6 separate regions of the Homo sapiens genome follow, and regions 2, 3, 4, 5 and 6 are each linked to region 1. The links come from fine-mapping of genetic effects on gene expression. A gene starts in region 1. Each other region holds a variant in brackets. All regions are shown on one strand. Distances are between the middles of the regions. Region 1 holds the start of SLC67A1 (solute carrier family 67 member 1). Region 2 has its middle 3.2 kb from the start of KCNQ1-AS1. Region 3 overlaps KCNQ1 (potassium voltage-gated channel subfamily Q member 1). Region 4 overlaps CARS1 (cysteinyl-tRNA synthetase 1). Region 5 has its middle 3.1 kb from the start of PHLDA2. Region 6 overlaps SLC67A1 (solute carrier family 67 member 1).

Evidence for each region.
Region 2: its variant is fine-mapped to the expression of SLC67A1 in whole blood (INTERVAL, PIP above 0.99).
Region 3: its variant is fine-mapped to the expression of SLC67A1 in memory regulatory T cells (Schmiedel 2018, PIP 0.95).
Region 4: its variant is fine-mapped to the expression of SLC67A1 in whole blood (TOPMed, PIP above 0.99).
Region 5: its variant is fine-mapped to the expression of SLC67A1 in lung (GTEx, PIP above 0.99).
Region 6: its variant is fine-mapped to the expression of SLC67A1 in blood mononuclear cells (TOPMed, PIP 0.98).

The regions. Positions count from the first base shown.
Region 1 is chr11:2,899,108-2,904,171 of GRCh38, reverse strand. SLC67A1 (solute carrier family 67 member 1) reads right to left here and starts at 1,894. Exons shown (of 11, transcript NM_002555.6): 1 at 1,808-1,894; 2 at 683-958. The coding sequence starts at 826. SLC67A1-AS (SLC67A1 antisense RNA) reads left to right here and starts at 597. Exons shown (of 3, transcript NR_169305.1): 1 at 597-713; 2 at 1,463-1,588. RefSeq lists an enhancer at 206-707 and a silencer at 1,633-1,762.
Region 2 is chr11:2,862,200-2,867,269 of GRCh38, reverse strand. No RefSeq gene overlaps it. Among named protein-coding and RNA genes, the nearest start is that of KCNQ1-AS1, 3.2 kb to the right of the region's middle. RefSeq lists a cis regulatory region at 1-114 and an enhancer at 3,614-4,311. The variant C/A (reference allele first, on the strand shown) is at 2,694.
Region 3 is chr11:2,617,106-2,622,175 of GRCh38, reverse strand. The region is part of intron 10 of KCNQ1 (potassium voltage-gated channel subfamily Q member 1); the gene reads right to left. It overlaps KCNQ1OT1 (KCNQ1 opposite strand/antisense transcript 1), which reads left to right. Exons shown (of 1, transcript NR_002728.4): 1 at 1-5,070. Among named protein-coding and RNA genes, the nearest start is that of KCNQ1OT1, 80 kb to the left of the region's middle. RefSeq lists an enhancer at 1-142 and a silencer at 895-974. The variant AT/T (reference allele first, on the strand shown) is at 2,463.
Region 4 is chr11:3,005,371-3,010,440 of GRCh38, reverse strand. CARS1 (cysteinyl-tRNA synthetase 1) reads left to right here. Exons shown (of 23, transcript NM_001014437.3): 19 at 3,482-3,562; 20 at 5,008-5,070. Among named protein-coding and RNA genes, the nearest start is that of NAP1L4, 16 kb to the right of the region's middle. The variant G/A (reference allele first, on the strand shown) is at 2,864.
Region 5 is chr11:2,929,955-2,935,024 of GRCh38, reverse strand. No RefSeq gene overlaps it. Among named protein-coding and RNA genes, the nearest start is that of PHLDA2, 3.1 kb to the right of the region's middle. RefSeq lists enhancers at 874-1,486, 4,501-5,070. The variant C/T (reference allele first, on the strand shown) is at 2,573.
Region 6 is chr11:2,923,808-2,928,867 of GRCh38, reverse strand. It overlaps SLC67A1 (solute carrier family 67 member 1), which reads right to left. Exons shown (of 11, transcript NM_002555.6): 11 at 3,622-3,858. The coding sequence ends at 3,671. It overlaps PHLDA2 (pleckstrin homology like domain family A member 2), which reads left to right. Exons shown (of 2, transcript NM_003311.4): 2 at 201-595. Among named protein-coding and RNA genes, the nearest start is that of PHLDA2, 3.1 kb to the left of the region's middle. RefSeq lists an enhancer at 1-171. The variant G/A (reference allele first, on the strand shown) is at 3,089.

The sequences.
Region 1 (5,064 bases):
TGAGACTTTGTTCCCAAGCCTCTCCAGACTTGGTGAATATAATTTAATCATTACTATTACAGCTTCCAGAGCCACACACTGTGGTATAGACTACTGAATGATACACTAAACTAACATGAATTTGCCAATGAAATGTTTCCGCATTTGGCAACAGAGATAATAAAATAAGACAGCATTCTATCTCTTGCAAGAAAAAGCTTGAGATCAATTTGCCGCCACAGATCATTTAGTGGACAACAAGGACCCAAGAAGATGGAGGGGAGAGATAGAAGCTGCGGGCAGGTGCAAGGAGAGCCTCTCTGAGGGGTGATCCGCCCAGAGCCACACCGGATTGAACAGCCCTTGGGGCAGGGACTCCAGAGGGCAAAGGCTGCCGGGTGAGAGGCAGGAGGAACAGCGCTAGGAAGGTTTGAGGAGGTGCTGCCCCCAGGAGGGAAGTGGGGTGGCTCCCCATGGCTTCTCCCGGGGCTGGCACTGAAGCTGGAGCACAGGATGTGCTGACGGGGGTCCAGAGGCAGAGTCCTTAACTTACTCAGCTTAAGCGTGGCATGAGTCCCAACTGGGAGGGGCCCTGGCAGCATGAAACCCCCACCCCCACTCTCTGCGACGGCCCAGATGGAGGGCAGGAGGAACAGCGGTTCAGCCCTGGCTGGGGCTGCAGGGGCTGGGGTGTGTTACTCACTGGCACGATGGAGAACTGCATGAAGAGGCAGGTAAGTTCTGTGGCGGCCAGCACGTAGGTAAGCAAGATGACCGAGGACCGGCCTAGAGCGCTCATCCTGCCGGGGGACCGGCCCTGGTCCCTGGGAGCCCGAGCTCCCTGCATCCTGGACAGGCGCAGCAGGGAGACCCAGGAGAGATCCAAGCAGGAGGCTGGCGGAGCAGGGGGCAAAAGTCCAGTTGATCCGGGCAGGGGTGCTGAGTCACTGGGTCCCAGGCAGCACCCGCCTGGCCTTGCCTGCAAGAGAGGACAGCACTGCAGGACCCCCTCCCCAGTGGAGCTCTCCTGCTACCTGGACCTTAGAGGACACATCAGGGGGTCCCCCTCCTCCACTTTTGACAGCTCTGGTCTCCAGGCACACAGCCTCCCGGGGAGGGGAGACAGGGACAAGCTGCTCCCCCCGACCCCTGCAGGTGGGCCAGGCTCAGTGCCTGGTTGCCTGACACAGGAATGTGCCATGCCCCACTTTTAGAGGGAGGCAGAGGCTCGGAGTGGTGGCTGAGTCCACCTCAAATCATCAGCGCCTTCTGTGGCCAGAGGGCTGATGTGGGTCCCTGTGCCTGGAGGCCCTCCGTAGGCCCACAGTGGCCCTGTCCCCAACACAGTGCAGCTCTCAGGGAAGGTCTACCTTCCCCTGTGGCCAGCAGCCAGAGCTCCAAGGGGCTTCTGGAATGGTCTTGCGTAGGGGAGACATAGCTCAGCCTTCCAGGCTCCCCAGTAGCTCTGCCTTACCTCCCACAGCGGAGTGCTGTCTGTCCCCACCCTTCCCCGCCCGGCCTCCAACTGGTGGGAACTGGATTTTGCGGCTGCAGAGGACTTCCCCAAATTTTGCCACATTAACAGCTGACTGCACATCTGAGCCCCGAGGTACCGAACCCAGGCTGGTGGGGTAGGGCGGGGAGACCCCTGAGGGTCCGGGAGCTGCGCCTGGCGCCCTCCCCCATCCCGGGATGCAGGGAGGCTGGGGGGAGCAGGGCAGCCGCAGCAGGCACGTCAGGGGCACCTCATTGGGCAGAGGTGCGACGCTGCGCCGGAGTTCGGGGTTCGGGGCTCAGAGGCCGCCCTCTCCGGAGTGTGCTCGAGTACCTGCCTTTGCAGGGGCGGGCTTGGGCACGGGTGCCGGTGGGGTGAGCGCTCCAGGGTGACCTAGACACCGGTCCTTCCGGGATGAGCCCCGGCCCCGCCCTTTCGGGAGATGACTTGCAACAGGGACCGCCCCTCTGGGTCTGAGTTCCAGCCCTCGCGCTTTGCAATCGCCAGTTCCGGGAGCGCCCGTGCCACGGTTTCTGCGCTCTCACTGGCCGAGCCCGCCCCTCCCCTCGAAGGACCCGCCCCTGCCCCGCCCACCAGCGGGCTCGCCCCGTGCCCGGCTTCGCCCGCCCCAGCCCCCTCCAGCTTGAATCCTGCCCGGTGCCCGGGCTGCTGGAGGTGGACACTCTGACCCTCAGGCAGCACCGGTGTCCACTTTGGGCCTGAGGAGGGGCAGTGTGGGCAGGGGATGGGACCGGGAGGTGGAGGGAAGGAGAGAATGGAGGGGAGGCAGGGGCGGGGAGAGAAAAGCGGAGGAATGGTGGTGAGGGGTTAGGGGAAGAAGTCAGGGGAGGTTGTAGAGGGTGTGGTGTAGCCTGGCCCTGCCAAAGGTCTGCACAGAGCCCCAGAAGAGTGACCAGGAGACAGCTCTGGGCCCCTCCTCACTTCCCTCCCCAGACCCGGAGGCTGCTAGGAGCAGTTGAGAGCCCACTTTTCCCCATTTCACCCTGCCTGCCACTTCCCCACCCTTGCAGGGGCCACCAGAGATGCCAGCACACAGGTAAACAAGCCTCATGCCGCCCTCCGCAGCAGGAGCCGCTGGAGCACACACACCCCACGCTGCGCACACTTGGCCCAAGCCCTGCCCTTGGCCTGGGCACCATTCTCCGTGCCCCTGACTGTCACTAAGTAGGGAGATGCTCATTCAGGACTCCTGCCCCACCTCCTCCCCAGGCAAGGGCTGGGCACAGGCTCAAATGTCAAAACCAGTGTCCCCCTGCCATGTGTCAATCATCGCTCCACAGAGCAGAAAACTGCAGGGGTGAGACAGGGTGGGACGGACATCGCAGAGGCGAGCGAGAGCCGGCCAAAGTCCTGGTGGGCAGGGGGGCCAGAGCCAGGTGGCCCAAGGCCGGCTGGCTAAGCCATTCCAAGTCACCGTGGGAGTGGTTCAGCAGCTACCCTTCGTTCAGCAGCTCAGATATGTTGGGCATCAGAAAACAATACCCCAAAATGAAGGCCTCAGAAGCAGCTTCGGAAGAAAAAGTGTTTCTCTGACCTTCTCTTGCTCTCCTGTCTCTCAGTGCCATTTTCCCCGAAGCTGGCCTTAGAAACTGGAATCCATTTTCCCCAGGGCAGGTCATAGAAATCAGAACCCCGCCTTTCCACACAGCCAGACATCAAACCTAAAAATATTGCTCTAACTTTCCCTCCACCTTTGTGTTTAGAAGCTGGCCATAAATTATCTGACCTCTCTTGTTTGACTGTAGGGCATAAGACCCCATTCCAGGAGGGTCCTGCTCCATGCCCAGAAGGAAGGAATGCTGCTCAGAAAGTTCAAGAAATCTAGACCAACAGCCCTCGCTGCGCTTCCCCTTGCGGTCCAGGAGCATTAGTGCAGGTCCCTTGGTTCATCTGTGTTCCCGCATGGATGTCCATACTTTGTTGAGCCTAAGCATCAGAAATGGCAATTTCCCCCATATCTTTTTTTTTTTTTTTTTTTTTTTTTGAGACGGAGTCTTGCTCTGTCACCCAGGCTGAAGTGCAGTGGCGCGATCTCGGCTCGCTGCAAGCTCCGCCTCCCGGGTTCACGCCATTCTCCTGCCTCAGCCTCCCGAGTAGCTGGGACTACAGGCGCCCGCCACAGCCCCCGCTAATTTTTTTGTATTTTTAGTAGAGACGGAGTTTCACCGTGTTAGCCAGGATGGTCTCGATCTCCTGACCTCGTGATCCGCCCCCCCTCGGCCTCCCAAAGTGCTGGGATTACAGGCGTGAGCCACCGCGCCCAGCCTGTTTCCCCCATATCTTTGGGTCTTTGTTCTGAAAACTCCCATTCACACACGTCAATCAATTTGGGGACCAAATGCCTTTTGTCCAATCAATCTGCCCTCTGTGAGGTGGTTTCTTAGCAAGCCCACGGGTGCAGTGTACCGCTCGAGGGGATTCCAGCCCAAAGAGTGCAAACGTGTTTGCATCTGGAGTGCGTGTCCCCAGATCCTCTGCCAAGCTCGTTTTCAAGAATAGTCACCACTGGCCGCCCTGGGGACTTGGGGAGAGTGCAGTCAAGCCGAGAGCCCAGGTCCAGCCAGAGTTTCCTGGAAGGACTGCACAGAAAGGCCGGCTGTGTAAGGTGGGGGTGGGTGACAGGAGTCTCAGAGTGTCTTAGATTTGGGACTCCTGGGGGAGGATGGGCATCCACATGAACCCTTACTCAATGGGGCAGGTGTGAGGGACTGTCCCCAACAGGTTCCAGACGCCTCCTGGGTTCCCTGGGGAGGGCTTAGAGGATGAAGCGGCAGGAGGAGATGGGATGAGTTACCAAACTGCCCAGAGGTGTGCGAGGGAGGCTGAGGGTCCTCTGGCGCTGAGGTGTGGTGGAGATGCTGGAAACTTACCACTGTCTTCCTCCAGGTGAAGCAGGGCCTCAGGTAGCCAGGGAACTGGTTGAGCAGAGGAAATCGGAGAGACCTTTTTTTTTGTCATGAACAGGCTCAGTGTGAATGGGGGAACTTCCTGGTTCTGAGGGAATGTGGGAAAATTGCCCTTTAGGCTGGGTGAAGAAGAAAGCAAGTGGAACCCTGGCACCCCTGGACTTCCTCCTCCAGAGGAAGCGGCTTTGGTTGTGGGCCAGCGAGCCTGTGCGTCCCCAGCCCCAGGGCATTCACCGCTTCAGAGAAGCAAGGCGACAGTTCTGCCGGATGAGAGGATCCAGGCTGACTGGAGGAAGGAAGGGCTTTGGCTCATCTGGGCTCAGGTTTGGGAGAGGTGGCTTCTCAGAGGAGGTGATGCCTCAGCCAGTCTTAAAGGTGAGCACGGATTGTTTGGGTATGGGAAGGGCATCCTGGCTGAGAGAATAGCATAGATAACGGCTTAGAGGTGAGCCCAGGCTTGGAGTGTTCAGGAAGCTGAGCCACTGGAAGGGGCTGGGACCAAGGGTGTACAGTGGGGTGACGGGGCAGAAAGTGAGTCTAGAGAGAGGGGTGACCCTGGGAGCGCTGGGCAGGGACACAGCCAGACGTGCACTGAGAAGTATTGCTCTGAACACTGCATCCTGGAGGCTGGGACCTCTGAGGGGTCTCCCGAATGAGAGGAGG
Region 2 (5,070 bases), 37 kb after region 1:
CAGACGTCACCTTCTCCCTGTGTCCTGGGAGGGTCATGCCTCTGAGTGTGCCTGTGTCCTCCTCTCCTTATAAAGACCCCAGTCCTGTTGGATTAGGCCCACACCAATGGCCTCATTTTAACTGTTTTCTGTAAAACCCTGTATCCACATACAGTCATGTGCTGAGGTGCTGGGGGTGAGGGCTTCGACATATGATTTTTGGGGGATACGATTCCTCCCATAACACTGGGCTTCCAGATTGGGCGTCCTGCCCTGTGGCCCGGGATGCCTGCTGGTGAGTGGCAATGTCCAGACCTCTGGGGACCTGGTTCAGCATGAGAGCCAGGTTGAGCTGTGGCACCTGCTCCTGAGCTGGGGGTAGGTGTGGTGACTGAGGCTGATGACAAATGCAGGCTCCAGGGCCTCCTGCATTTCAGAGAGATCTCAAGTGGCATTTGGGGACCCTGGTATTCTCCTCAAAGGATAAGCGTCTAGACACGGATGCTGTCTCACCCCCTCCCGCCCCCCTCACTGAGAAACGAGGCTCCTCTGGAAGCCGGCACCATGCCAGGCTGTGGGGAGAAGGCAGGGGCACCTCCAGGGGCTGGTTCCCTGCCAGGGGCTCTCAGTGCGGTGCTGCCAGCCCCACACCCGTGGTGTCTTCTGCTTATTTTGCTCTCTTGCTTCGGCCTTGGGCTTTCCTTGCCTTTTCTTCTCTCTTCTCTCGTTCCTACTTTTTCTTCTCTTTCCCAAATCTGCCCCTGCCCCCGCCCCCCAAGAAATTCCTAAATCTGAATAAAAGCCCAACAGGGCCCAACAGCGAGACCCACCCCCCAGCTCTGCAGGATGACCTGGGCCCAGCCCTGACGTCTGCTCTCGCACCCGCTGCTCTGTTGCTGTGCAACCTAGGCAGGTTAGTTGACCTCTCTGAGCCTTGGCCAGCCTGCCCAGTGGCAGACACAATGCTGAAGTGTCTCTTGGGCAGAGTGAGAAGGAGCTAATGAAAATGGCTGAGAAAACAGTCTAGGCATTTAAAAAATGTCACGTAATTGCAAAATAATAACGATAACAACAATATACTTTGGAATTTTGCTGGAACTGAGAGCAGGCCCGAGTGGAATTTGGCACTGAGTGGGTCTGGCCTGGCTTCCATCCAAGGGGGTTTAGTTACTGAGGTGCCCCCAGGACTCCATTCTGAGGCAGCCCCTCTCGTAAGATGGTCCTGACAGTGGACTCTGGCATGGGCTGTGGCTGGGGTCCCTCATCGGCTGGGGCCAGTTCCAGGCATTATTGCTACAGCACCCAGGTCACAGGGCTGGCAAGCCAGTGGGGCTTTTTATTTCTTTTGATTTCCAAATTGAAAATAGCCATATATTTCCCTTGGTTGTAGAAATAGCAGCATATGCTCATTGTAAAAAAAAAAAATGCAAACAATATGGGAATGTATAAAAAAGACAGTAAAAATTCCCCCAGATAGATGCTGCTATCCTGAGATAAGCGCAGATGGCACTTTGGGGCTCTATATCATTTTACATCTATGGGACTCACATTTACTTTTTAAGTCCAAAGCACATATTTTATTTTAATTAAAAAATATTTTTTGAGATAGGATCTTATTCTGTCACCCAGGTTGGAGTGCAGTGGCACGATCATGGCTCACTGCAGCTTCCAACGCCTGGGCTCAAGCCCTCCACCCACCTCAGCCTCCCGAGTGGCTGAGACCATAGGTGTGTGCCACCATGCCCAGCTAATCTTTAATTTTTTTTTTTTTTTGTAGAGACAGGGTCTCCCTATGTTGTCCAGGCTGGTCTCCAATTCTTGGGCTCAAGTGATCCTCCTGCCTCGGCCTCTCAAAGTGCTGGGATTATAGGCATCTGGCATAAAGGTATATTTTTAATAGAGACAGGGTCTTGCTATGTTGTCCAATCTGGACTGGAACTCCTGGGCTCAAGAGATTCTCTCACCTCTGCCTCTGGAGTAGCTGGGACTACAGGTGTGCACCATTGTGCCCAGCTCAAAGTACCTATTTTAAAGTATTAGAATGTCTATCTATTTGTATACACACACACAAACATATACTGTTTTAATTGAAAGTATTTAACCATAACAAACTGTTCAAGAGACCCGTAATCTGAGTGTGATAAACAAAGTAACAGTTTGGCAGAGAGTTGAGTACAAGCAGCTGGTGACAGTGCTAGGGCGGGAGAAGGCGGCTGGCGTCTTTTAAATGTGTTAGGGAAAGGCCCCAGGTTACAGGATTGGGAATGCGCTGTTGTTGAGAAGTGGCCGAGGGAGTACGAGGACAGTTCAAATGCTCTGGGTCTACCCTCGAGTGTGGGGTGAACATGGCGATTGCAGCAGTGGGTCCACACGGCACCTCAGGGCCCAGGGAGGGTTTGGAGGCGGAGGGCAGCTGGGCTGCACTGTCTTCCCCAGAGGAAGATGGAGGCCTCTGGTTAATGAAGCAACCACAAGGGGTTAGGACCAAGAGATGTTTGTCTCAAATGGGTGTAACCATCCCATTTGAACTGTTTCCTGGAAAGAAATGAAAGGGGGATTCTGACGGGGCACCTGTTATTTTATTGATAGGAAATGGTTTCCATCCCGTGACCATGGAAATTTCCACGGTGCGTCCTGGCCGTGCATATTCTATGAGCCAGCTTCCCCCAGCCCACGGCATGTCACTGTGCTGGCACCCATGAGACAGTGCCCTG[C/A]AGGATGGGTGACAAGGGTGGCTGAGCCCTCCGGCCTCGGCCTCGGTGTCTACTGGAACCCCCCATTAGGTCCCCCAGGTGGGCCTTGAGTACCAGCAGGGGTGTGGGCCAGGCCCTGAGCTTCACCCTGAGGGGAAGGTGGATGGGACTCCTTTCAAGAGCCAGGTGAGGGAGGTGTGGCACAGGGCAAAGGTTGAGGCTCCTGGGTGTCCAGGGAAGAGCAGCCCCTGAGGGGCCTGAGGACACTCAGAGGAGGAATGGGTGGAGGAGAGCTGGCAGCCAGGGTGCCCGTGCAAGGGCGCAGCAGGGCAGGCTCAGTGATGTGGAGCTGGAGGGTGGGCATTGAGGCGGAGGTGGGGGGTGGGGGGTGCGGCTGTGAAGGTCACGCCAGGGCCAGGGTGCCAGAGTCAGACTGGTGGCAGTTGGGCCAGATTCACTCTGTCAGCTGACTTCAGTCCCAGCTGAGCCCAAGGCTGAGGGATCCGCCTGCACTTTCAGTCCTCTGGCTGAGCAAATTACGAAAGTATCACAGAATGTTTCAGGAACAGATGATTTTCTTTCTCTTTCTTTCTTTCTTTCTTTCTTTCTTTCTTTCTTTCTTTCTTTCTTTCTCTTTCTTTTTTCTTTCTTTATCTCTTCTTTTTCTTTCTTTCTCTTCCTTTCTTTTTCTTCTTTCTTTCCTTTCTTCCTCCCTCCTCCCTCCTCCTCCTCCTCCTCCTCCTTCTTCTCTCTTTCTTTCTCTTTCTCTTTTTTTTCTTTCTTTTTTGAGATAGGGTCTTACTCTGTCACCTGGGCTGGAGTATAGTGGCACAGTCATGGCTCTATGTAGCCTCCACCTCCCAGGCTCAAGTGATCCTTCCTGGGACTACAGGCGCGCCGCTACGCCTGGCTAAAAAAATCAGAAGATTTTTTGTAGAGATGCGACCTCGCCAGGTTGTGCAGGCTGGACTGGAACTCCTGCGCTCAAGCAGTCCTCCCGCCTCGGCCTCCCAGAGTGTTGGGATTACGGGCGTGAGCCACCGCGCCCGGCACCCTTTTCTTTTTAAAGGTCTGTGGCTGAGTTTTGTATTGGGAGTATTCTTACTTACCCAGAACGTGGCTCTGTCTCTGTTTCATCGCTGGTGGTGGAGCAAGTGAATCACCCACCAATGTATAGGTTTTCTAAGTTTGTGGTTGAAATTTTGCTAGTAAAGTGGACACATCACAAAGAAACTGCCTCCCTCCCTCACTCTGCCCAGCCTGCCCCAGCCCTAGGCTTCGAGGCAGGCCTGGGCTCCCGGAGGATGCTCCCTGGCGCTGTGGGGCCAGAGGCCTGGGCCAGGCTCCTGCTGGGGCTGGAGATGGGCGGGGTGGCGGAGGCCGGCCCTGGCCTGCCTCATTTCTGCGCTCCGACCAGCCTGGGAATCTGTTTCTGTCATGAAAGGCGAGGGTGACCTGGCGGGCTTCTGCTCCTGGTTGGTCAGAAAGTCCGGGGATCCTTGGCTCCGGTTAAAGGGGCCCCCACGTCTGCCGTCTTGCCCGGCCGCCTCCAAGTGCCGCCGGCCCAGGGCTGAGGAAGGCGGGCCGCGGGGAGAAGGCGCGAGGGCCGGGCCGGGCAGGGGGTCCCGGAGCCAACCCCACCGCCCGGGCCGCCCCGGGCCCGCGCCCGCCGCCCCCACCGCGCCGCGCGTCTGTTTGGAGAAGAAAGCGGGCCAATTTGTTTTCATTCAGAATCACTTAAGATCCCATTTTGGAGAAATGAAAAGAGAGAAGCGCGCTTCCCGGGCCCGGGCCGCTGGGTGCCCGCCCGTGCCCGGCGGCGCGTCGAGTGGAGGGACAGCGGCCCCCTCCCTGCCCTCGGCCCCAGCACGCCCGGCCGCGGCTCCCGGAGGTCCGAGGAAGGCGGCGAGGCCGCGCTCATCTGCATGAAGCGCACACTCGCGGCCCATCTGCAAAGGCGCAATTAAACGCGGGGGTGGGGGGGCAGGGGCGCCCGAAATTAGCATTTCCGCGGCCATCTGGCGCGAGGAGCGGGCGCGGCCGGACAAAGGGCGCCGGGCGAGGGGAGAGGCGAGTGTGCCGCGGCATTGACCTGCAAATGAGGCTTTGTGCGCGCATTAAAGCTCGCCGGACCCCCGACCCCGGCCCCCGCCCCGCCCGCCAGGCCCGCGGCCCCTAGCGGCCCAGGCTCGGACTGGGCACCCCGAAGGTCTGGGGGTCGGGCCGGGCAGTGCCGCGACTGGGCAGGGGGCCGGGCCGGGCCGGGCCTGGCCGGGCCAGGACAGGCTGTGGAGCGTCGGAGCCCCCCACCCAGGCTGGGTTCCTCTGCAGCCTCCAGGAGAGCCCCTGGGACCCTGGCCCCTTGAACCCTACCCCTGCCCCCATCCGGTCCTCGCCC
Region 3 (5,070 bases), 280 kb after region 1:
TACAATAATACTTAGGGACTTCAATAACGTACTTTCAGTAATGGGTAGAGTCAAAGAAGAAATGAAAACAGAAACTTAAAAATATCTTCAGACAAATGACAGTGGGAACACAACATACCAAAAGCAAAACATGCAGCAAAAGCAGTTCTAAGAGGGAAGTTTACAGCAATAAATGCCTTGCCTACATTAAAAAAGAAGAGATATTTCAAATAGCCCAAAATTGTACCTCAAGGAATTAGAAAAAGAAGAACAAACTAAAGCCAAAGTTAACAGAAGGAAATAATAAAGATCAGAACAGAGACAAGTTAGAAAGAAAAACCATAGGGGAAAAAAGTCAGTAAAACTAAGACTTCAATTTTTGAAACAAAGAATTGATTTTTGAAAAATAAAATCAACAAACTCTTGGACTAAGAAAGAGGACAAAATCAGAAATGAAAATGGAGAATATATTACAACAGGTACTTCAGAAATAAAAAGGATCATAAGGGACTTTTATGAACAATTATATCCCAACAAATTGGATAACCTAGAGGAAATGGACAAATTCCTAGAAAAAAACCAACCTGCTAAGATTAAATCAGGAATAGAAAGCCTGAACAGACCAATAGCAAAGAGATCACAGTGGTAAACTAAAGAGCTTCTGCATAGCAAAAGAAATTATCAACAGAGTAAACAGACAACATATAGAATGGGAGAAAAAATATTTGCAAACTATTCATCTGGCAAAGGTCCTATGTCCAGAATCCATAAGGAACTTAAACCAATCAACAAGCAAAAAACGAATAATCCAATTGAATTGGCAAAGGACAGGAACATACATTTCTTAAAAGAAAATACAGAAGTAGCCAAACAAAAAAACATTCTCATGATCACTAATAATCAGAAATGCAAATAATGAGGCCAGGCACGGTGGCTCATGCCTGTAGTCCTAGCACTTTGGGAGGCTGAGGTGCGTGGATCATCTGGGGTCAGGTATTCGAGACCATCCTGGCCAACATGGTGAAACCCCGTCTCTACTAAAAACACAAAAATTAGCCAGGTATGGTGGCGGTCACCTGTAATCCCAGCTACTCAGGAGTCTGAGACAGGAGAATTGCTTGAACCCAGGAGGTGGAGGTTGCAGTGAGCCGAGATTGCGCCACTGCACTCCAGCCTGGGAGACAGAGCAAGACTCTTTCTCAAAAAACAAACAAACAAACAAAAAAGCAAAAAACAGACAAAAAAAAACAAAACAAAACAACAACAACAAAAAAACACCAAACCATAATGGGATGCCATCTCACACCAGTCAGAATGGCAATTATTAAAAAGTCAAAAAAATAAAAGTTGCTGGGAAGGCTGCAGAGAAAAGGGAACGCTTATACACTGTTGGCAGGAATACAAATTAGTTCAGCCACTGTGCTAAGCAGTTTGGAGTTTTCTCAAATAACTGAAAACAGAACTACCATCTGACCCAGCAATCCCATTACTGGATATATATTCAAAGGAAAATAAATTGTTCTATCAAAAAGACACATGCATTTGTATGTTCATCACAGCACTATTCACAACAGCAAAGACATGGAATCCACTTAGATGCCCATCAGTGGTGGATTGGATAAAGAAAATGTGGTACATGTACACCATGGAATACTATGCAGCCATAAAAATGAATGAATTCGGCCAGGTGCGGTAGCTCTCACCTGTAATCCCAGCACTTTGGGAGGCCAAGGCGGGTGGATCACCTGAGGTCAGGAGTTCGAGACCAGCCTGACCAACATGGAAAAACCCTGTCTCTACTAAAACTACAAAATTAGCTGGACGTGGTGGCGCATGCCTCTAATCCCAGCTACTCAGGAGGCTGAGGCAGGAGAATCACTTGAACCCGGTAGGCGGAGGCTGCAGTGAGCCGAGATCATGCCATTGCCCTCCAGCCTGGGCAACAAGAGCGAAACTCCGTCTAAAAAAAAAATAAAAAAAAAAAATATATATATATACATGAATGAACTTACGTCCTTTGCAGCAACATGGATGCAGCTAGAGGCCACTATCTTAAGCAAATTAATGCAGGAACAGAAAACCAAATACTGCATGTTACCACTTGCAAGTGGGACCTAAACACTGAGTAAACATGGACATAAAGATGATCAGTAGACACTGGGGACTACTTGGGGGAGGAATGGAGAGGTGGGCTGAAAACCTACCTATTGGGTACTATGCTCACTACCTGGGTGATAGGCTTATCCACACTCCAAACCTCATCATCATGCAGTATACTCCATATACCATGCAACATATAGACCTGTACATATACCCTCTAAATCAAAAATAAAAGTTAAAAAAACCCCAAAACCTCAAACAAAGAAAAGCCCAGGACCAGATAGCTTCATGACTGAATACTACCCAATATTCAAAGAATACCAATACTTCTTAAACTCTTCCAAAAAAATGCAGCTATAGGGAATACTTCCAAAAAAAAAAAA[AT/T]GCAGCTAAAGGGAATACTTCCTAACACATTTTATGAGGCCAGCATCACCTTGATACCCAGGTGAGCCAAAGGCATCACAAGAAAAGGAAACTACAGGCCAACATAACCCAAGAATACCGATGCAAAAATCCTTAATAAAATATTGGCAGACTAAATTTAACAATACATCAAAAAGATTATATATCATGTCTATGTGGAATTAATTTCTGGCATGCAAATCTTATTTAATATACATGTAGCAATCAATGTGATACTAACAGACTGAAAGATGAAAACCACATGATCATCTCAATTGACACACAAAAAGTATTTGATGAAGTTGAACATCCTTTGTTGATAAATTCTAACAGTTCAGGTATAGAAGGAACACTCCTCAATATAACGAATGCCATTTATGAAAAGCCCACAGCTAACGTTATAATCAATGAGGGAAAACAGAAGCCCTTCTACTATGAACCAGTACAAGGCAAGGATGCCCACTCTAGCTACTACTACTCAACATAGTACTGGAAGTACTAGTACAACCAAACAGACAAGAAAAAGAAATGAAAGACATTCAAATCAGGAAGTAAGAAGTAATATTATCTTTATATGAAGATGACATGATCCTACATATAGAAAACCCCGAAGACTCTGACAAAGCAACCTGTTAGAACTAATAAATGAGTTCAGTAAAGTTGTAGGATATAAAATCAATATAAAACAGTAGTTGCATTTCTATACACAAATAATGACCTGGCCAAAAAAGAAATCAAGAAAACAATCCCATTTATGATAGCATCAAAAAAATTGCTTAGGAATAAATTTAGCCAAAAAGATGAAAGACCTGTACACTGAAAACTATGAATCATTGATGAAAGAAATTAAACAAGATACAAATAAATGGAAAGATATCCCATGCTCATGAATCTGAATAATATTGTTAAAATGTCAATAATATCCAAATCAATATACAGATTGAATAAAATCCCTATCAAAATCCCATGGAAAATTTTTTTAAATTCTAAAGTTCATTTGGAATAGCAAGAACCTTAAGTAGCCAACGAAATTCTGAAAATTCTGTTCTGAAAAACAAAGGGAGACTTCATACTTTCTGGTTTATTTTACAAAACTATTGATCAAACAGTATGGTCCTGGCATAAAAAACAAACATGTAGACCAGTGGAACAGAATAGAGAGCCCAGAAAGAAATTCAAAGATATATGATCAACCAATTTTCCACAAGAACACGAAGAAAACAATGCAGAAAGATAGTCTCTCTCATAAATGACGTTAGGAAACCCAGTTCTGTGGCTTGTCCAACCCATGGCCCACAGACCACATGTAAGCCCAGGATGGCTTTAATGAGGCCCAACACAAATTTGTAAACTTTGTTAAAACATTGAATTTTTTTGCATTTTTTTAGCCCATCAGCTGTTGTTATTGTTAGTGTATTTTATGTGTGGCCTAAGACAATTGTTCTTACAGTGTGGCCCCGGGAAGCCAAAAGATTTGATATCGCTGCCTTACACCATACATAGAAATAAACTCAAAATGGATAAAAGACCTAAACATAAGACCAAAACCCACAACCAGAAGAAAACATAGGGGAAAAGCTCGACATGGCTCTGGCAGTGATTTTTTGGAGATCACACCAAAAGCTCAGGCTACAAAAACAAATAATTGGTATACCATCAAACTAAAAAACTTCTGCACAGGAACGGAAACAGTCAACAAAAGGAAAAGGCAACCTATGGACTAGAAGAAAATATTTGCCAACCATATATCTTATAAGAGGATAATATCCAAAATTTATAAGGAATGCATACAACTCAATAACAAGAAAATAGATAACCCAATTAAAAAATGGGCAGTGGAACTGAGTAGACATTTTTGCAAAGAAGTTATAAAAATGGCAAACACATATATGAAAAGACATTTAACATCACTAATCGTCAGGGAAATGCAAATCAAAATTACTATGCGATATCACCTCACACTCATGAGAATAGCTATTAAGTGTTGGCTAGGGTTAGGGAACTCTTGTACAGTGTTGGTGGGACTGTAGATTGGTGCAGTCATAATGAAAAACAGAATGGTGGCTCCTAAAGAAATTGAAAATATACTATCATCTGACCCACTAATCCCTCTTCTAGGTATATTCCCAAAGAAAATGAAATCTCCACCTCATAAAGATATCTGCGCTCCTATATTCATTGTGGCATTATATGCATGAGTCACGATATGAAAACTTACGTGTCCATTGATGGATGACTAAACTGTGGTGTGTATGTCTACAATGGAATATTATTCCGCATTAAAAAAGGAGATCCTGCCACTTGCCACATGGATGAAACTGGAAGACATTGTGCTAAGTTAAATAAGCCATATACAAATGAAAAGTTTTAAATAATCTCACCTATATGTAGAATCTTAAAAAGAAAAAAGTCAAATATACAGAGATAGAATAAACTAGTGGTTACCATGGGCAAGGTGTGGGGGAAGAAAATGGAAAGATGTAGGTCAAAGGATACCAAGTAGCAGATATATAGGATGAACAAGTCTAGAGATCTCATGTAGAACATGAGAATAGTTAGTATATTGCATTTGGAATTTTTGCCAATTGA
Region 4 (5,070 bases), 110 kb before region 1:
GCGCAGGGCTCTCCAGCAATCTTGGCAGCACTAACTTAGCGGCATCGCTGGGGTCGTGGGCTTGGGAAGACCATTCCTGGAGGTCGCCTGGGCATTTCCACCTGCCTTCTGGGGGACATCGAAGGCCGAGCCCGGGCCCCAGCTCCCTGGGGTCATACAAGACTGTGCACGTGGCCTTGGCTTCCCTGGCATGCCACAGCCCCGGGAGGGCGCTAAAGGGGGACTGGCCAGGCACAAGCTCCCGCTCGGTGGCACTGACCAGGACAGGACTTGCTCAGGCCTGGAGAGTGGCACCAGCCAGCCAGCATTGGAAGTAGTTCGGTTTTGCTTTCTGTTTGCTTTTCACTTTTGTTTTGTGGCTTGGAGCAGGTAGATGGGTGATGTGGCCCCAGGTTAAGATGGTGGTGATCCCTACCCTGTACATCATCCCATATGTGCCTTGTGAGCCAGAGACCCTGGGGATCCAGGGGCCTCAGACCTTCCGACGGGGCAGCGTGTTAGAGGTGGCTCTGGTGCAATCACCCTGTCTCCCCAGCAGCAGCAAATAGTGACTGTTTTGTTATTCACTGTTAACATCTCATGGCTGGCCAAAGAGAAAGTGAGTGTATAACAAGCTCAGGGGTGGCCCTCAGATCAGCTGGGATCTGCTTGGCCCAGGCCAGATGCTCCACAGACAGACGAAAAAGAAACTGTTTCCCCTGGAAATACCCCCATGGTCCAGTCAGCTAGAGAGCACAGGCCTGGCAAGGAGGGCAATGGGTTCAGGGTTTGACCAGGAGAGAGGCACTGAAGTGAGAAAGCCAGGGGCTGGGCCAGGGCCCTCTGCACTGGGGAGATGATGCCATTTCCCCATCGCCACGGTTTTGTTTTCATTATGTTAAAATACACAGCTCAGTGCCATTAGGGACATTTACAGTGTTGTGCAGCCGCCACCGTCCATCTCCAGAACTCTTCCCTTTTCCCAAACTGGAACTCTGTCCCCATGGAACAGCAACTCCACATCCCCTCCCTCAGCCCCTGGTGCTCACCCTCTACTTCTGTCTCTTTGGATTTTACTACTCCAGGGACCCTACATGAGTGGAGTCACACAGTGTTTGTCCTGTGTCTGGCTTATTTCGCTGATCACGGTGTCCTCAGGTCTATCCATGTTGCAGCCTGTGTCAGGACCTCCTGCCTTTTTAATGGCCAAATCATATTCCATGGATGGATGGGCCCTGATCTGTCTATTCTTCCATGGAAGAATTCTCATCACCTTTGCGTTATCTTTGTAGCCCACATTTCTCTTCAGTAAATCCCTGATGATGATGTCATTGTCTGCTCCTCTGCCCCAGCTCTGCTAACAGAAGCCACAGAGGCTTCTTCCTCAGCTCCTCAGAATCCAGACCCAGAGGTCGGTGTGGGCCTGAGGGGTACGGCGTGTGTCCCTTTCCCCCAGGGAGTGTGGCCCGGGAGGCTTTCTTGGTGCCTGCTCTGATGATCACCCATGGCGGGTGGGCTGGGGTGCTGGCCTTGTGGCCTCCCATGACACCCGTGACAGTGACCACAGGTGCTGGCTTGCCTTCCTTCTAATGAGGGTGCTATCCAGGGGTGGCTTTCAAAGAGTGAAGGGCAGGCACCTACCTCAGCTCATGCCCCAGTCAGCTGCTCCTCAGGTGGCTGAGGAGGGCCTGTTCCCAGGAATGATACTGCAGACAAATATAAAGGCCATTGTTCCCCTAGGTCTCTGCCTGGGGAGGTTGAAACTCCGGAAGCTGCCCAAAGTGGCTGTGCTTATGAGCGCGGCCTTGAAGCCCAAGGATATGCAATTTTTTTTTTTTTTTTTTGAGATGGAGTCTTGCCCTGTCGCTAGGCTGGAGTGCAGTGGTGTCATCTTGGCCCACTGCAACCTCCGACTCCCTGGTTCAAGCGATTCTTCTGCCTCAGCGTCCCAAGTAGCTGGGATTACAGGCACATGCCACCACACCCAGATAGTTTTTGTATTTTTAGTAGAGATGGGGTTTCACCATGTTGGCCAGGATGGTCTCGATCTCCTGACCTTGTGATCCACCCGCCTCAGCCTCCAAAAGTGCTGGGATTACAGTCATGAGCCACCGTGCCTGCCCGGATATGTGAATATTTTATCTAGCAGTGAATGAAGGTGTGGGGTGCCCAGCAAGGAGCTCTAGGGGTCTCAGTTATGAGGACACAGCAGGAAAAGGACAGACGAGAATGGCAGCATGTGCATGGTCAGTGCTGCCCAAAGGCAGGGCAGGCAGGAGGATGGGGTGGGATGGTGGGGGTCCCAGCAGGCTGGGGGGCAGGGCACCTGCCCGCCTAGCACAGTTGGGCGCAGCAAGCTGAGGGGCCAGAAGAAAACTAAAGGGTGTGGTGATTCCAGCAAACCCAAGGTCAGATTTCAGAGCAGAAAGTTGTCACTTGGAGAGCAGCAAGCATCTGTCCTGTTGATGTAGTCTAGGAGATGCTGTCACATCACCTGATACTCTGGAGTCTTTCTGAGATAGGTTGGCATCCCATTTACCCTGTAACACCCAAAACTTCTTATGTCCTGTTCTCTACCTGGGCGTTGTGCGTGGGCTGGGAACGGGAAAACTCGGGCAGAGCAGAGACACAGAGGGGGCGCCTGCTAGAGACTGCGTGAGGAGCCCACTAGGAGAACCGTGGGATGCCGGGCAAGTCTGCACTGCTGCGCTCTGAAGTCAGCCACAGACACATGGGTTTCCAAGCGAAGCTCCCTCCCCATGTGATGGAGGTCACAGTCGCCCTCCCTGTCATGCCTCCTTTCACCCTCCCAGCTGGGTCAGGTCCCCAGTCAGAGGCAGAGGTGAGCACAGTCTTGGGAAGCAACCTGCGGTCCACCCCCACC[G/A]CTCAGCCCCGCCTTTACAGCTGCGTGCGCTTCAGCCCTGGGAGGGCTGATTCTCACAGAGCTCGAGCTCCTTGGTGGTCCTGGGACTCAGCTCTCCTGGGTGCCGGTCAGGACCCCCATCGCAGTCCCGTGTGCATTTGGGAACCAAGTCCTTGGGGCTTGAGTGTAAATGGTCCTTCTGTAAGAAAGCTGATTCTGGCACCAACAGAGAGGCTGCCTCAGATGAAGAGTGTTAGCACCCGAAGGGACCCCCAGGCCTGTCCTGACCCTCCCACCCCTGCTGTCGGCCCAACTTGTGTCCCTTTCCTGGAAGAACTGCTTCCGGCGGCCAGTGTGCTATGCTTCCTCCTGGCTCTGCCCTGCACCCCCAGAACAGCCCCTGGGCTTACGGGAGACACTAGTCTCTGGGCTTCTGCAGCCAATCAAGCTGCTGGGCCCTCCCTCCCAAGCACTGGAGGAGGTACTCGTTCTGTGGGCCGGGGCCCCTCCCTCCTGAGCACTGGAGGAGGCACTTGTTCTGTGGGCCACGGCCCCTCCTTCCCCAGCACTGGAGGAGGCACTGGTTGTGTGGGCCCTGGCTCCTCCATGTCTGAGGGAACTGCTCTGCTTCTCCTACAGTCCCTGAGATTCTGCAGCTCAGCGATGCCCTGCGGGACAACATCCTGCCCGAGCTTGGGGTGCGGTTTGAAGACCACGAAGGTGGGTGAGCCCTTGCTGTTTGCTACAAAGTTACCAGGAGCTTGGAGAGGTGTCACAAGGAGAGCTCCCGGGGCTGGGCTGAGGCTCATGCTTCATGATTGCTGATGCAGAATCCCAAAGTGGCAGCCCCATGGGTCCCCCGGCGCCATTCCCACGCTGGCCAGCCTGGCAGGGGCAGGGGAGCACCCCGTAGCTCCTTCCCACTGCTGCGTGTGGTGGTGTCACCTCCCCTGCGCATCATCTCCCCTAGGGGCCTGGCTGCCCGCTGCCCCTGTTGCTACCGCCTTTGAAGCTCTCAGCTGAGGAACCAGCCTGTATCCTGTACACTGTCAACAGATTGCATGCTTGTTCTCCCACTTCGTGGAGGTCTTTTTGTTCCACAGAAAGTTAATTTTTTTGTTTTTTATTTTCAATTTTTATTTATTTGTTTATTGAGACAGAGTTTCGCTCTGTCGCCCAGGCCGGAGTACAGTGGCGCGATCTCGGCTCATTGCAACCTCTGCCTCCCGGGTTCAAGCGATTCTCCTGCCTCAGCCTCCCGAGTAGCTGGGATTACAGACGCCCATCACCACGCTCGGCTAATTTTTGTATCTTTAGTAGAGACGGGGTTTCACTGTGTTGACCAGGCTAGTGTCGAACTCCTGACCTCAAGTAATCTGCCCACCTCGGCCTCCTAAAGTGGCATGAGCCACATGCCCAGCCTTAGTTTCAGTTTTTATGGATACATAATAGTTGTACATATTTATGGGCTATGTGTGATATTTGGATACATGCGTATGAGGTACTATGATCAAATCTAGGTAACTGAGATGTCCATCACCTCAAGCATTTATCATTTCTTTGTGTTACGAACCCTCCAATTCCACTCTTCCACTCTGCCCCTGGTAATTTTAAATCTCAGATGTCATGTCCTATTTTCCTACTCCTGGCTGGCAAGACCTTCCTACCTTCTCGTTACAAAATGTTCTCGCCAGGTGTGGTGGCTCATACCTGTATCCTAGCACTTTGGGAGGCTGAGGTGGGTGGATTACCTGAGCTCAGGAGTTCGAGACCAGCCTAGGCAACATGGTGAAACCCCGTCTCCACTAAAATACAAAACATTAGCTGGGTGTGGGCTCCTTGGGCAGCTGAGACACGAGAATTGCTTGAACCCGATAGGCAAAGGTTGCAGTGAACTGAGATCGTGCCACTGCACTCCAGCCTGGATGACAGAGCAAGACTCTGTCTCAAAAAAAAAAAAAAAAAAATCACACACACACAAACCAAAATGTTCTCCTGTGCTTCACTGCTGCTATGGAGGTTTTTGTTTGTTTTTCTCCTGTGGGCCCTCGCTCTGACTGGGCAGCACCGCATGGTCTGGGCAGGGCAGGGCAGGGCAGGGCTGGCCCCGCAGTGGGGACGGCCCACAGAGCCCAGACTCTTCTCACACGCAGTTTATTTTGCAGGACTGCCCACAGTGGTGAAACTGGTAGACAGAAACACCTTATTAAAAGAGAGAGAAGAAAAGA
Region 5 (5,070 bases), 31 kb before region 1:
ACCTCAGTCCTCCCTCTCTCCCTTCCTGTATTTTGTTTGTTCCTTTGTTCATTGGTTCACTCCTTCAAGCTTCTGGAGACATCCCCACAAGCCAGGTGCAGGGCGGTCATGTTGGCTGCTCTTGTTTTCCATCTGCGAGTGACTGCTGGGAGGGCCCTTTCCTGAGCTCCCTGTGTCCTGGCCCCATCTCCCAACCTCTGGAGGCTCCATAACCACCCACAAGCAGCCCTGTGGAGGTGACACCAGCCTGATGGAGCCCGACGGAGGCCCCACTCTGCCCCACGGGGCCCCCTCATCTTGGCACGCCTGACTGCCAGTCTCACCCGAGGCAGCAAGGGGCTGTCTGGTCTCATACACACGCCAACAGTCTGCACGTTCAGTAGTCAGTGCAGAGGGGGTCTTTTGGACAATGACGTGGATGCCTTTATTTTTTGAGACAGGGTCTTGCTCTGTCACCCAGGCTGCAGTGCAGTGGAGTAATCACGGCTCACTGCAGCCTCGACCGCCTGGGCTGAAGTGATCCTCCCAACTCAGCCTCCCAAGTAGTTGGGACTATAGTGCACATGCCACCATGCCTGGCTAATTTTTATTTTTTTTTTTGTAGAGATGGGGGGGTCTTGCTGTGTTGTCCAGGCTGGTCTCAAACTTCTGGGCTCAAGCAATCTGCTCACCTCGGCCTCCCAACTTGCTGGGATCATAGGCGTCAGCCACCGAGCCCGGCCTCAGGATGCTTTTTTAGCCATTTCCTGAGTGCCTGGGCTGATCCCTGGGGCTCCCAAAGAATAAAACATTATCACTGCATTTAAGGAGCTGATAATAGCTTCTGAGCAGGGTACTGAGGGATAAACAGGAGCTCATCAGGGGCCAAGGAGAAGGGTGTTCCTGGTTTCTCAATCAATCCCCAACATCTTGTGAGGTAGGACCTGCCTGTCAGGCTCCAGTGGAAGAGCTCAGGAAGAGACACAGCAACAGAGAACACAGCCCTCCAAGGCCAAGATCAGGCTGACAGCAAGTGTCTGAAAACCAGGTGGGTCATGCCACGGGGCCTCTCACTTTCCTCAGGCTGCAGCTGGGAGGAGACAGATAGAGGGCAAGCCTGAGTCACAGGCCCTGGCACATGGGCCATGTTGGGCTCAGGTGAGGTGGCACCAGTGCACTGCTCAGGTGCTGCAGCTCCAGGCAGCTTAGGTCTTCCCCCAGCCTCCCCAGGCTCAGGTGGGCGGAGGCTTGGAGACCCATGGCCTAGCAGTATGTGGTTGGCAGGAGGCAGGCCTTAGAGTGCGCCCTGGCAATCTGAGAGGGCTTCCTGGAGGGGGTGAGAGGAGCTAGGGGTGGGCCTTCCTGACTGAGGAGCAGTGGGCCTTTCTGCAGGGCTCTCTCTGAGCAACCCCTCCCACAAGAGGGTGGTGTCAAGCCCCAGGCACTGGGCCGGGCCCTGTGACACGCAGCTTCCTCACAGGCTGGCAGGATGGCCAGGCTCGTTGGGCAAGTGCCTGGAGGGCCCGGCCTCGTCACCGTAAGGAAGTGACCTCACTCAGGGAGTTTCGGAGAGGTGCCCGCATCCTACTCCAGCTGCTGACAGCCTCACACAGCTGGGCTCCGGTGCCAAGGGTCCAGGCAGCTGGACAGGGCAGCCAGTGTCCCAGGCCAGATGTTTGGGCACCCAGACTGTACAATGCCTGCCCAGGGGTGGGGGCCCTTGGCTCAGGCTCTGCATGAATCCTGGATGTGGCCCCTCAGATAAATATCAGTAAACCCGGTTTGGACTGATGCTGCCTGACACCACCAACTCGAGGCAGAGCCCCCTCCCCATCCTGAGAAGCAGTCACAGAACATCAGGGCTGTTTCCTGCCCCGAGCCACAGGGTGCCACAGAATCGGGGAAGCTGTGGATGTGGCCGCACTGGCCACTGTGTAACCTGGGTGAGTCACCACCTCTCTGAAACCCCCACCCAGTGTTCCCTGCAAACCCAAGAAAGCAGTCTCAACAGGGAGAAATGACCGCACAGAACTAGCACGGGGCAGGGCCACACGGACTCTCCTGCCGGTGCCTGGCCCTGGCATCTCTCCGGCAGGTGGTTCCTCCGCCTCCAGCACGTGAGTGGTCCAGAACCCTCGTAGAAGCAGGTCCCATGGGGTGTGGCCGAATCCACGCCGGGTTCCAATCTCTGTGCTGTGCTGGAGAAGCTCCCAGGCTCTTGGCTATCAAATGGCTCTAGGAGGGGCATTCCTCAAAAGACCCTCATGTGGGGTCCCTGTGTCAGCACTCTTCTGCCTCAACATCCCTCCCCCACATCCCAGGAAGTGAGTGTCACAGCCCTCATCCTCCAGAGGGGACCCTCAGGCAGGCCTGCTCTGGGGGATAGAGATAGGGTCCCTCCTTGGAAAGGTGACCTTGACAAGTCACTGCACCTCTCTGAGCCACCCTTTCTGCATCTGCAGCTTGGGGCCAGTGCTTCTCCTGGGGGCACCGCTCAGCCCCAGGTGGGACCAGGTGAGGCGGTGAGGCTCAGGCCTCAGGCAAGGGAGGCCGAGCGGGGGCTGGCAGAGGGCGGGTGGCTCAGAGGGGCAGA[C/T]GGCAGTGTGAGTTAGTGGTGGTGGTAAAGCCCCTCGGGTGGATGGTGGACGCAGAGAGGATGGGGCAGCCCCTGTGTGCAAGTACCTGCCAAGTTGGCATGGTGTCCTCCAAGCCCCTCTCACCTCCTAAGGCCGTGGTTTATTTTTGCCCATGTCCATAAAGACACCCTGGGGGCTCCTGAAGTCACCTGCTGGTCCAGGGCTGGTAAGGCTTGGGAGTCGGCTCCCTCCAGCCCCCACATTGGCAACCAGGTTCAGGCTGGTTTGGCCGAGCAGGGGCCCAGGGTGTCTAGCAGCTGCTGGGGAGGCCAGGGCCACTACAACTGAGCCCCTGGGGCAGGGACTGTGGGCAGAGAAGCTGCCTGGGGAGGCCTGGCCTCCAGGGCTCAGACCTGATTTCCAGCAGCCCCTAAAGGGCCATCCACCCCCATACCCCCCAGGTCTTCACAGTGTCCATGAGGGGAATAGCAGAGAGGGGCTGAGTGGGCAGGAAATCCCCTAGGGAGGGCAGGGCCTCTGAATCTCGGCTGCACACCCTGCCCCCTGGCCTCCCAGCTCCTGCCCCACCTGTCAGAGCATCACCCCTGGGTTGTAAGTCCTGCCCCCAGGGGAGTGAGTTTCCCAGCCTCCCTTGAGAGGGCCACTGGGGTACAGGCAAAGAGAGGAGCTGGGCGGGGCTGGGGGAGCACACCTCACCTGGCCTCACCTGGTTTCCAAACCCTCTTCCTCCCCCTCATTTCTCTCAGCCCCTTATCTGCTCCTGCCTGTTCTCTGTCCCTTCCCCAAGGCCCTCTCCATCCTGAACCAGTTTCCTCTTCTGTGGAACAGGGGCTGGAGTGCCCACTTTGGGGAGTTCTCTGGGTTAGGTGGAGGCTGGGCACAGTGGTGGCATACGGGCACCACTGGCCCTTCAAGGTCTCCTTGGAATCTTCGAGGGCACGCCCTCCCCACAGAGTCCTCCAAGCTGTCCTCCTGGCCTCCAGTACCCCCGACCCCTATCCCCATCCTCATGTACCTGCTGTGCCCCTGGGGTTTAGAGGGATTCCTCTCCCCTCCTCTGGGGTCCCAGCACCAGCCAGGCCTGCAGGCACACAGTAGGTGCTTAAGCAACCACGAGTGTCGGGGGATTTGCCTGGAGCCGAAGTTCCACTGGCTGGCCCCTCAATGGGGTAGGCAGGCTGGTGGGCCTGGAGGTGTTCCAGGCACCTGTGGGCTGGCGCAGTGACAGAGCGCTCTGCCCCCGGCCGCTTCTCCTGGTCTCCCACTGCCCAGAGGTGCCTCTTGCCCAGGTCCCACTGTCCGGCAGCCCAGGGCCCTCTGGAAGCAAAAGAAGGGACACCAGAGTCCGAATCCTTCCTGCAGCCTCTCCGGAACAATGCTCGAATCCCCTCTCCCCGCCAAAGGCTGACCTCCCCTCACCCACCCACCCTACCTGCTGCTCCCTCACCACAGGATCCCAGCCCTGCTGCAAGGACAGGTGTCAGGTAGGGGGCAGTGTTGACCCGCCGGCCCCAGGCAGGTGTCTCACTCCCAGGCCAGAACCCTGGCACAGCCCAACCCTGCCCTCTGCCGGCACTGCCCCTCCACACCACATCCCTGCCCACTGCCAGGTCCTCTGGCCACACCGGTGGGACCACCGGGCAGCTGCTACCTGCATGCCATTCACAGAACCGGGTCTGGGGCGCTCCTCTGAGCCGGACGTCTCTTTATCCTTTACAGTGACCCTGAAGGGCAGGTGGAGGTAGGGCTGGTCCCAGGTCTGGGTTTTACGCTCTGCTGCCACTGTCTTGACATTTTAAATACATTTTGAATCAGGGGACTCTCGTTTTCATTTTGCGTGAGCCCCGTCATTGAGGCCAATTCTGACCCCAGAGTTGGGACTTCCTGCTGTAACCACCCCAGGGCGCAGCTAGGGGGCAGGGGTGCGGGAAGGTGGGAGACGTGGAGTAGTAGCCGGGGTCTCTGGGGTCCTCTCGGCCGGCTCCACCCCCACCCCTGGGAACCCGGGAAGAGCCGGCTTTCGCTTCCTGTCTATTAAACCCTTTAAAGGAAGAGGGTAAATAAAACCGCCCGTCTGCCCAGCTGGAAAGCGATGACTCAGCCGCCCCCGCCGACCCTCGCCCCCAGGCTGATCCCAGAGAGCGGGCGTCGCGGCCCAGCCCGAACCCCTCAGCTCCTGGGACCTCTCTCCGGTCCGGGTCGTGGGGGCGCGGTCGGAGCAGTCCGTACCCCAGTTCGGGACACTACGAGGGCGCAGGGAGGAGAACGGGCTTCCTCTTCCCCTTCCATTTTCTGAGCTCTATGGGTTGCTGGTCTAGCCCTTTCCACGTGTTCCCTAATCCAGCAAAGGTTACTGTTCCCATTTCACAGAAGCGAAAACCGAGGCTAAGAGAGGTGGTCGTTCTTGGCGCAGCCCGTGGGTGGCAAGATAGGAGCTCGGTCCGCTAGGGCAGGGCCACTTTCGGAGAGGGTCTCTGGGCGGCCCTGGGAAAGGCCC
Region 6 (5,060 bases), 25 kb before region 1:
CCTGCGCCCTAACAGCCGGGACCGGGGCCTTTGGGAAAAACCACTTCAACCCCAGACGGCGGGGCGGGGGCGCTGCACCTCCTTGGGGGACCCGGCGCCCCGCAATCGCGCTGGCCCCCTCGCGTCAGGGTCTCGGGGCCCCTCAGGCTGGACCCGGACCGGCCCTGGCACAGCTCTCTGACCCAGTCCTTTCCCCACAGGGCCATACGCTGGACGAGTCGGACCGAGGCTAGGACGTGGCCGGCGCTCTCCAGCCCTGCAGCAGAAGAACTTCCCGTGCGCGCGGATCCTCGCTCCGTTGCACGGGCGCCTTAAGTTATTGGACTATCTAATATCTATGTATTTATTTCGCTGGTTCTTTGTAGTCACATATTTTATAGTCTTAATATCTTGTTTTTGCATCACTGTGCCCATTGCAAATAAATCACTTGGCCAGTTTGCTTTTCTACCATCCGGCTGTGGCTCAGTGAGACTCCTGCTGGGAGGGTGGAGGCCCAGGAATGGGCGGGCAGGACACCCTCATCCAGTCCTGCGGGGCTGGTGTGAAAGGCGCTGGGAACCGGCTTTGAATGAATAAATGAATCGTGTCATCTGCTGGGCCTGGTCCACACCCTCTTTTCCAAGCAGCCTCCCCAGAGGCCAGGAAGTGCCCTGGGGCTTGACCCTGGCTACCTTCTGCTCCTTGGTGTGTCCTGAGGAATTGAACCTGGGGAGGACAAGGGCCCTGGGTCCGAGCTGCTGCTGCCTGTGGTGGGGGAACCTTCCCCAGCAGCACTTCCTGCCCACAAACCACCCGCGCAGTCAGACCAGAAGGAATCCCTCAGCCCTCTGGCTGCCCGCCGCCAGCCGCTCCTTGCCAGTGCCCGCAGTGTGGGGCGGGCAGGGTCGCCTTTGCTTCTGGGGGAACAGGAGAGAGTTCTGGGCTGTCTCCGATGGTGGGGCAGGAGGCAGAGGTCCCTGCACCTCCAGGTACTGGCCCAGGACATTGGGGTGGAGAGGCCTGAGTGCAGCAAATCCCTGCCCCTCTTTCTGAGATAGCTGACCACGGCTTTCTGCCCTCCGGTCTGGCTGTGCTCTTTGAAAGACAGGGATGGTCTGAGACAGTTAGGGTTCAGGAAGTGTGTCCCCCACCCAGAAGGGCTCCTGGTGATGAACAAGCTGAGGAGGTGATAAGGGGTACAGGCATGACTCCTCACCCCACAATGGGGCCTTCATTTCTGGAACCTTCGTGGTTGGAGGGATGCCAGTAGGGGAGGCAGAGAAGTACCAGAATTGGACCCTAATCTCTGTTGCTAGGAGGCCGACGAAGCCTGGTAGCTGGTCTGGGCTCAGGGCGGGGAGGGTGCTATCCCTTCGCTGCATGGCCCGCAGGAGTCTTGGTGCTAGGTCCAGAAGAAACTATTGCCTGCAAGGAAGTTTCTCCCGAACGCAATTTGTGAAGCCCCTGTGCAGATCGGGGAGGGGCTCCTGCAAAAAGCAGAAAACAGCAGCCAAGGACGCTGCCTGGCTGGGCTCCTGGGCCTCCTGGCTGGCCCACCAGAGCCTCACCTGGATGGATATCCAAGGTCAAGAGGAGAGCCCTTGCCCCTGGGTGCTTCAAGCATAGGCATGATCCGGCCTGAGCTTTAGGCGAAGAGGGTGGATGGCCCTTGGCTCACTGAGGCCACTTCTTGTTTGAGGAATTTTGGAATTCCTCAAATTCTGAGGACAGTGGAATTCTAAGGTTTGGGGAGTCCATGTTTCAACAGCTTCTTTTAAAAGCAGCCCGAGGAGAGGAGGGGCGGCCTTCATGGTCTCAGGGGCAGCTGCAGACCCTCGCTGAGGCTGTGGAAAGCCTGTCCTCTCCAGATGGGTCAATCGGTCACAGCGGCTGGGCTGGCCTCCTCATGCCCAGTTCTCCTCCCCAGAGCCCAGGACCAGGGGGTGGGGGTGAGGGGTCGGGAAGTGCTGTGGTCAGGAGGCTGGGAAGGCAACGGTACATGGCCTGGCCAGCAAATCAGCTATAGAAGGGACCCCCAGTTCCCAGGCCATGGATGGGTACTGGTCCATAGCCTGTTAGTAGCTGGGCCGCACAGCAGGAGGTGAGCAGCGGGGCAAGCATGACCGCCTGAATTCCACCTCTCGCCAGATCAGCGGCAGCAGTAGATTCTCACAGGGACGAGAACCTTGTTGTGAACTGTGCACAAGAGGGATCAAGGTTGAGCACTCCCCATGAGAATCTAATACCAGATGATCTGGGGTGAAACAGTTTCATCTGGCCCACCCACATCCGTGGAAAAATTGCCTTCCATAAAACTGGTCCCTGGTGCGGAAAATGTTGGGGGCCACTGAGCTGTAGGATGAAGAGGCTGAGATAAGGGGACACCAGAGGAGTTCTGGGGTTCATGTGGCTGGCAGTGTCTGGTGCGGTTCTGGGGTTCGGGTGGCTGGCAGTGTCTGGTGCAGTTCTGGGATTCGGGTGGCTGGCAGTGTCTGGTACGGTTCTGGGGTTCGGGTGGCTGGCAGTGTCTGGTACGGTTCTGGGGTTCGGGTGGCTGGCAGTGTCTGGTACGGTTCTGGGGTTCGGGTGGCTGGCAGTGTCTGGTGCGGTTCTGGGGTTCGGGTGGCTGGCAGTGTCTGGTGCGGTTCTGGGGTTCGGGTGGCTGGCAGTGTCTGGTGCGGTTCTGGGGTTCGGGTGGCTGGCACTGTCTGGTGCGGTTCTGGGGTTCGGGTGGCTGGCAGTGTCTGGTGCGGTTCTGGGGTTCGGGTGGCTGGCACTGTCTGGTGCGGTTCTGGGGTTCGGGTGGCTGGCAGTGTCTGGTGCGGTTCTGGGGTTCGGGTGGCTGGCAGTGTCTGGTGCGGTTCTGGGGTTCGGGTGGCTGGCAGTGTCTGGTGCGGTTCTGGGGTTCGGGTGGCTGGCAGCCTCCTTGGTACAGTTCTGCGACCAGGGTTTGGGTCTGTGTGCTGGACTGTTCAGCAGAATGAGGGCATTTTTCCTTCCATCTAGGAAGGCCTCAGTTCCCTGATCTTTTTTTTTTTTTTGAGATGGAGTCTCGCTCTGTTGCCAGGCTGGAATGCAATGATGGGATCTTGGCTCACTGCAACCTCC[G/A]CCTCCCGGGTTCAAGCGATTCTCCTGCCTCAGCCTCCCGAGTAGCTGGGACTATAGGCGTGCACCACCTCACCCAGCTAATTTTTTAAAAAATATTTTTAGAAGAGCCGGGGTTTCACCATGTTGGCCAGGATGGTCTCGATCTCTTGACCTCATGATCCTCCCGCCTCGGCCTCCCAAAGTACTGGGATTACAGGCGTGAGCCACTGCGCCCAGCCAGGTTCCCTGATCTTTTAAAGCAACCTGTTTCTGCTCTTGGGCAGGCACACTGTGGGCGGGAGTTGGGCAGTGAGCTCGCCATTGCTTGGGATGTGAGCAAGAGCTGTTTGTGTGGCAGCAGGGGGACCTCCTCCATGGGCGGACTCAGGGCTGTACTAATAACAGTGAACCAATTTGGGTGGTTCTGTCCTCCCCAGAGCTTTGCCCAGCTGTAGGCGCCCTCCTTGAGGAAGCCCTCCAGCCCGAGGCCCCATCCCTCACTGAAGGACGCAGGCAGACCATGCGTGAGCCTGCAGAAACCAGGCCGGAAGAGGTCGGAGGGATTTAGTAGGAGTTTATTGCCAGTCTGTGTCTGGGCAGCGGTCACCGGACTTTGTCCTTCCTCTGGGGCATAGGTTTCCTCCAGAGGACCAGGAGGACAAGGGTATTGATAGCAACCTGCACGTGGCCGAAGACGGGGACGCCAAAGCTGCGGTACAGGAGGCCGCCGACCGTGGGTCCCAGAGTTCGGAGCAGTGGTTGTACAGAGGCGCAGAGGCCCAGCATGGTCCCTGGGGGGTGCATGGGGGTAGTCAGGCCCTGGGCAGCTCCCTGGGCCAACTGCCCACTTCCTGAACACAGCCATGGCCTCCCATCTCTCCTGACCCACCCTGACCTCACGGCGCAGTCCGCACCTTGCATAGTCTGGTGAAATACTCCCCTGAACACCCATCCTTTCCACCTGCCAGCTTCTAACCTCCAGTCCCCCACCCCCTGCCACCCGCCCAGCCTTTGGAGCAAACACAGCTCTCTCTACCCACTGGTCTGTTCCCCGAGGACCTCTCAGCCATGCAGGGTGCTTCCCAGGGCATTGGGCTGAGTCTCTTCCCTGCTCCAGAAAGTTTCCAAGCACAGGAGGAGCCTGGGAATGGGACCACAGGTCACCGCAGAAGGCCCCGCCCTGCCAGGCCTGCCAAGGGAGATGGCATCTGTGCCTGGGGCCCGGAACCTCCCGCCCAGGCTGTCAGGGAGCTGGCTCTCACGGCTCTTTCCCAGGGTGCCTGCCACCACCGAGGGCTGGTGATGCAGTGGGGAGGCTAAGCCTGGCCTGTGAGACACCGTTGGGGCTTGAGTTCAGAGTGGGCATGACACCCCCATCCCACGGCCCCTCCTGGCCATCAGCCCTTCCTCCAGCCGCCCCACCCTGCGGAGCTCCTACTACTCCATGGAACTCCCCCTCACAGGGCTGGGAGGGGCTTTGGAAGCCCATGCAGGGCCCCTCCACCTGCCCCTCCTGTCCCCAGAGCAAGACCGAGCGGCTTCCGAGGCTCCCCAGACAGCCCCGACCTGCGCAGCAGCCTGCTCTGTCCCTGACACCGCATCTCCACGCCCCTGTGGCCAGCTACCCGCAGCATGGACGGGCACGTGGGCACTATCTGTGGCTGTTGTCAACACTCGGGCAACAAGGGGGGCAGCACTCGCCAAGCGGGAGGACCCCCCAGGACTCCAGGTGGGAGGACACTGCCTCTGGTCCCGTGCCCAGAGGGTCTCTGGCTCCAGGGACTTCAGAGCCCAGGTCTCCTGGAGTTGGAACTCCCAGGGCTGGTCAGCTGTGATGAGGAGCTGGCCAGGCCCCACCTGGGCTCAGGGCCCAGCATGGAGGACCATTAAGAGCAGCCTCTTCTGCAGACTCAGGGTGCAGTTCCTGCCCCTTCTGTCGCTGGGTTTCCAAGCTGCTGCTGGGAACCAGATGCTGGCTCCTACCAGGCCAGGG